Regions from separate parts of the Homo sapiens genome. Here region 1 is linked to region 2. The links come from fine-mapping of genetic effects on gene expression. A gene starts in region 2. The other region holds a variant in brackets. All regions are shown on one strand. Distances are from middle to middle.

Evidence for each region. PIP is the estimated chance that this variant, and not a neighbour inherited with it, causes the effect.
Region 1: its variant is fine-mapped to the expression of BCL9L in whole blood (TOPMed, PIP 0.90).

What each region holds. Positions count from the first base shown.
Region 1 is chr11:118,900,878-118,903,774 of GRCh38, reverse strand. It overlaps BCL9L (BCL9 like), which reads left to right. Exons shown (of 10, transcript NM_001378213.1): 6 at 323-539; 7 at 701-785; 8 at 867-2,897. Among named protein-coding and RNA genes, the nearest start is that of MIR4492, 8.4 kb to the left of the region's middle. The variant A/G (reference allele first, on the strand shown) is at 1,659.
Region 2 is chr11:118,924,415-118,927,311 of GRCh38, reverse strand. It overlaps BCL9L (BCL9 like), which reads left to right and starts at 1,386. Exons shown (of 10, transcript NM_001378213.1): 1 at 1,386-2,074. RefSeq lists silencers at 262-321, 1,142-1,281, 1,482-1,531 and enhancers at 1,727-2,228, 2,600-2,669.

The sequences.
Region 1 (2,897 bases), 24 kb after region 2:
TATTTCCTCCTTTGTTAAGTGGAGTGTGTGACACGTTCCTCCCAGGGTGTGTTGATGAGATGAAATCACACCTGTTAAGTCCCCAGCAGAATGCCAGGCCCATGGGAGCCTGTGGAGAGGACACATTTTCTCTGTCCCTGCTCTCCACATGGTCACCACTCTTGCCATCGTGGAAACCAGCCTGGTGAGAACACCAGATACTGACATCAAATGTCCCTGTGGGCACGAGCTGTAAGGCTGTGAGCATCAGTGGGAGGGGGCATCAGCTGGTCCTTCTTGTATCTAGACCACTTAGCCCCTTTCCCTGTCCTCTCTCCTGCAGATTGTAATGTAGCAGACCCAGCCATGGCGGCCCCACAGCTGGGTCCCGGCCAAACCACCCAACTGCCCCTCAGCGAGAGCAGCGTGCCAGGCGCCCCGCACGGCCCTCCTCCTGGCCTTCGGCCTGATGCCCCTGGGGGCGGGGGCGGGGGCGGGGGCGTCCCCGGAAAGCCTCCCTCGCAGTTCGTATATGTCTTCACCACCCACCTGGCCAACACGTAAGTGCCTGGTGGGCAGGCCAAGTCTCTCTCTCTCTCTGCCCAGCACCTCTCAGCCTGGGGTTCCGAGGGAGCCCCGTGCAGGGGCAGGGTGGGGTGGGTGAGGGTGGGGCTCCCTCCTGCTCACCTCTCTGAGCTGTCGGTGCCCCCACTCTGTGCAGGGCTGCAGAGGCAGTGCTGCAGGGCCGGGCCGACTCCATCCTCGCCTACCACCAGCAGAACGTGCCCCGGGCCAAGCTTGACCAGGTGAGCGTGGCGCCTCTGTGAGCAGCAGGACTGGGTGGAACGTCCCCTTACCTGTCTCATGCTCTCTTTGTCCTTCTGCAGGCCCCTAAAGTGCCCCCCACCCCAGAACCGCTACCCCTGAGCACGCCGTCAGCAGGCACCCCGCAGTCCCAGCCACCTCCACTGCCGCCGCCGCCACCCCCGGCCCCTGGCAGTGCCCCGCCTGCTCTGCCCCCAGAGGGGCCTCCTGAGGACAGCAGTCAGGACCTGGCCCCCAACTCGGTGGGAGCTGCCAGCACAGGTGGTGGGACTGGGGGCACCCACCCTAACACCCCGACGGCTACCACCGCCAACAACCCTCTGCCTCCTGGAGGAGACCCCAGCAGTGCCCCCGGCCCTGCCCTGCTGGGGGAGGCAGCCGCCCCTGGAAATGGGCAGCGCAGCCTGGTGGGCTCAGAGGGCTTGTCCAAAGAGCAGCTGGAGCATCGGGAACGGTCCCTCCAGACGCTGCGAGACATTGAGCGACTGCTGCTCCGCAGCGGAGAGACTGAGCCCTTCCTCAAGGGGCCCCCAGGAGGAGCGGGTGAGGGGGGCCCACCAGCACAAGCCCCCCCTCCCCCCCAGCAGCCACCCACGGCCCCTCCCAGCGGGCTGAAGAAATATGAGGAACCCTTGCAGTCCATGATTTCACAGACACAGAGCCTAGGGGGCCCCCCGCTGGAGCATGAAGTGCCTGGGCACCCCCCGGGTGGGGACATGGGGCAGCAGATGAACATGATGATACAGAGGCTGGGCCAGGACAGCCTCACGCCTGAGCAGGTGGCCTGGCGCAAGCTGCAGGAGGAGTACTACGAAGAGAAACGGCGGAAAGAGGAACAGATTGGGCTGCATGGG[A/G]GCCGTCCTCTGCAGGACATGATGGGCATGGGGGGCATGATGGTGAGGGGGCCCCCGCCTCCTTACCACAGCAAGCCTGGGGATCAGTGGCCACCTGGAATGGGTGCGCAGCTGCGGGGGCCCATGGATGTTCAAGATCCCATGCAGCTCCGGGGCGGACCTCCCTTTCCTGGGCCCCGTTTCCCAGGCAACCAGATACAACGGGTACCTGGGTTTGGGGGCATGCAGAGTATGCCCATGGAGGTGCCCATGAATGCCATGCAGAGGCCCGTGAGACCAGGCATGGGCTGGACCGAAGACTTGCCCCCTATGGGGGGACCCAGCAATTTTGCCCAGAACACCATGCCCTACCCAGGTGGGCAGGGTGAGGCGGAGCGATTCATGACTCCCCGGGTCCGTGAGGAGCTGCTGCGGCACCAGCTGCTGGAGAAGCGGTCGATGGGCATGCAGCGCCCCCTGGGCATGGCAGGCAGTGGCATGGGACAGAGCATGGAGATGGAGCGGATGATGCAGGCGCACCGACAGATGGATCCTGCCATGTTTCCCGGGCAGATGGCTGGTGGTGAGGGCCTGGCGGGCACTCCCATGGGCATGGAGTTTGGTGGAGGCCGGGGCCTCCTGAGCCCTCCCATGGGGCAGTCTGGGCTGAGGGAGGTGGACCCACCCATGGGGCCAGGCAACCTCAACATGAACATGAATGTCAACATGAACATGAACATGAACCTGAACGTGCAGATGACCCCGCAGCAGCAGATGCTGATGTCGCAGAAGATGCGGGGCCCTGGGGACTTGATGGGGCCCCAGGGCCTCAGTCCTGAGGAGATGGCCCGGGTTCGGGCCCAGAACAGCAGTGGCGTGATGGGCGGCCCGCAGAAGATGCTGATGCCTTCACAGTTTCCCAACCAGGGCCAGCAGGGATTCTCTGGAGGCCAGGGACCCTACCAAGCCATGTCCCAGGACATGGGCAATACCCAAGACATGTTCAGCCCTGATCAGAGCTCAATGCCCATGAGCAACGTGGGCACCACCCGGCTCAGCCACATGCCTCTGCCCCCTGCGTCCAATCCTCCTGGGACCGTGCATTCAGCCCCAAACCGGGGGCTAGGCAGGCGGCCTTCGGACCTCACCATCAGTATTAATCAGATGGGCTCACCGGGCATGGGGCACTTGAAGTCGCCCACCCTTAGCCAGGTGCACTCACCCCTGGTCACCTCGCCCTCTGCCAACCTCAAGTCACCC
Region 2 (2,897 bases):
AAGATACAACACATCAGGAAGTACTCAGATGCTATGATGGGATAGGTGGTCAGAAGAGAGGGAGGTCAGTGAGGCTAGAACTATCTGGGGACCATCTGTGAGGAGGGGCAGGGGAGAGGGCCGAGGAAACAGCAGGAACAAGCAGGCTGGCTAGTGTTCTTCCTATCAGACACAGTCAATGCTTGTCACTTGCTATTAATTCTGGGTGGGTGGGGACAGTAGGAAACAGGGAAAGTGCCCTGGGATAAGGAGACCCAAATTCTAGTCCTGGGCTTACCACTTTCTAGCTGGGTAGCTCTGGGTAAGTCCTTAGGTAATGCAAACCTCAATTTCCTCACCTCTGTAATGGGACCATAACCTCTTTCTTGCAGGTTTGTGGTGAGCATTGAAACATGTGAAATGTTTTTAAAAAGCGCTTTGGGCCGGGCGCGGTGGCTCACGCCTGTAATCCCAGCACTTTGGGAGGCCAAGGCAGGTTGATCACCTGAGGTCAGTAGTTCGAGACCAGCCTGGCCGACATGGTGAAACGCTGTCTCTACTAAAAATACAAAATTAGCCGGGCATGGTGGCAGGTGCCTGCAATCCCAGCTACTTGGGAGGTTCAGGCAGGAGAATCGCTTTAACCCAGAAGGCAGAGGTTACAGTGAGCTGAGACCGCGCCTTTGCACTCCAGCCTGGGCAACAAGAGCGAAACTCCATCTCAAAAAAAAAAAAGGGCTTTACATTTTCTTTTTCATTGCCTCGATCGTCCTATAGGGTGGTGAGAGTGTGTGTGTGTGTGTGTGTGTGTGTGAGAGAGAGAGAGAGAGAGAGAAGCACTTTGAGGTTAGGTTAGGAGAGTTCTTTTGAGAAGACAAAGGTTTCACTTCCACAAACATTTTCTTAGCATGCACTTTGTGCTGCTGAGGATTGAGATGAAAAAACTCAGTCTGTGTCCTCAAGGACCTCATGGTCTACTAGGAGAGACATGAATAAAGAGATGCTCAGTGCATTATGGATGTGGGTGGGTACAACGAAGAGGGGACCCAGTGCTGTGTGTGTGTGTGTGTGTGCGCGCGCGTGTGTCCAGGCAACTTCCACTCCTTCCAATCAGTGCAGATAGGAAGGTAGGTTTGTCAAACCTTTCCCTAGCCTGGGATGTTGTTGGCGCGTCTCCTCCCCAGTTCTCAGGAGTGAGGAGGAGAGCAGAAACCCCCCTCCCCGCCCCCGGGCCAACCTGCCTCCCGCTAGCCGGCCGGGCGCCTTACCGAGTCAGACCACTGGGAGGCTGGGGGAGCCGGGTTGGGCGAGGAGGCAAGCGAGATGGGGGAGCTCTTATTTTGACAGGGGCCTCTCCGGGCTCTGGTATGAAGGCAGAAGGAGGCAGCCAGAGAGCCCCGATGCTTATTCAGGCTGGGGAGTGGAGCCGAGTGGAGGGGCAAGCGAGGCTCCGGCAGCGCAGGGGAGCCCGGGGAGGCGGCGGCGCGCGGCGGAGCCAGTGGCTGGACATGCCCCGGACCCGGGGCCGCTGCACCACCGCCGCCGCCCGGAGCCAGCCGGCCGGACGCCCGCACGCCTGGGTCCCCCGGCGCCGCGCCGCCCGGGGGCTGTGACCCGGACCCTCGGAGTCCGACCAACAATAAGCGCCCAGACAGCCCCTCCCCACCCAGCGCCCGGCATTCCCGCGGGCTTTGGGGAAAGGAAAGGAGAGGCGAGGAAGGAAGGAAGGAAGCAAGCAAGCAAGCAAGGGAAGGAGGAGCAGGAGCAGGAGCCGGAGCCCTGAGGTTCGGGGCCGAGACCCCGGCCCCGCGCCCCGGCCCCGGCGGGTGTGCGCGCTCTCCCGCCACTGCCCGGCGCCCGCGACCATGCTCCGCGGTTGGGAGGCAGGAACCCAGGCACCCAGCGATCCCCGGATAGCCTCTCCCGGGCCGGGCTGGTATTGAGATCAAGGCGTCCAGGATCAAAAGATCACCGCCTGCCCGCCCCCTCTGCATCTCCAACTGGCGAGCAGGAGGACCCCCATCCACACAACGACCCTGACCTGGTCATGGCGTCCAGCTCCGGCCTGGCGTGAGGACCCCCCAATCCGCGTGAGGTGAGGGGTGGGCTGGGGGCAAGGCGAAAGTCATGCCAGGCCAGCAGAGGCGCGAGGAGGGAGATCCAGTTTGAATCGGGGAGGGGAAACACAGTCTGATTGTCTCTTGCTCTCTGGCACGTACCCCCAGGCTGTTTAAGGTGTGGGGGACTCCCCCAGGGTCAGTGGAGGCTACTCTTAAGCCCCCAATCAGGTTGGCAGCTCCAGAACACCGTGGGGAGGGCTTAGGGACAGCCAGGGGACCCTGCCACCCTAGCGCAGAGAACAAGGCCGGCCTTGGGCCAGCTGGAGCAGCGAACCTTGCCCTGGGGGCTTCTGGGAGATGTAGTCCCCCTCCCAGGCTCACCAACCCCGTGGGTCTCAGCACCCCAGCCCTCCTCCTCTGGCTGATAGGAGCCTCCAGAAGGAGGTGGGTTGGGACTGGGGAGAGCTGGGGGTCACCCTTTTCTCCCAGGCACTGCCTGTGAGTAGCGGGGGCTGTGACTGAGGAGTCTCTTCTTCCAAGGCTTCTGAGTGATGTGGGCTTGGCTGGGGGGTGGGGCAGTCATACAGTTCCTTGGAAGTGTCCCTGCGCTGCTAAGGGGAGGTGGCCCCTGTCTTGATCCAAAGGAACCCTCGGGGAAGAATGTAGGAAGAGAAGTGAGCTTAGGCTTCTTGTTGCGCTGGGGTAGGTCCTATTCCAGGGCTGCTGGAATTTGGTTTCAGAAGAGACAGAGGGCTGCTCTCTCCTTCTGAGAAGGATAGTGTCCCTTGAAGTCTAGGAGTCTGGAGGGTGTCTCTCTGGAGCAATGAAGCTAGGATCAGCTACTGTCTGTCTGTCCAG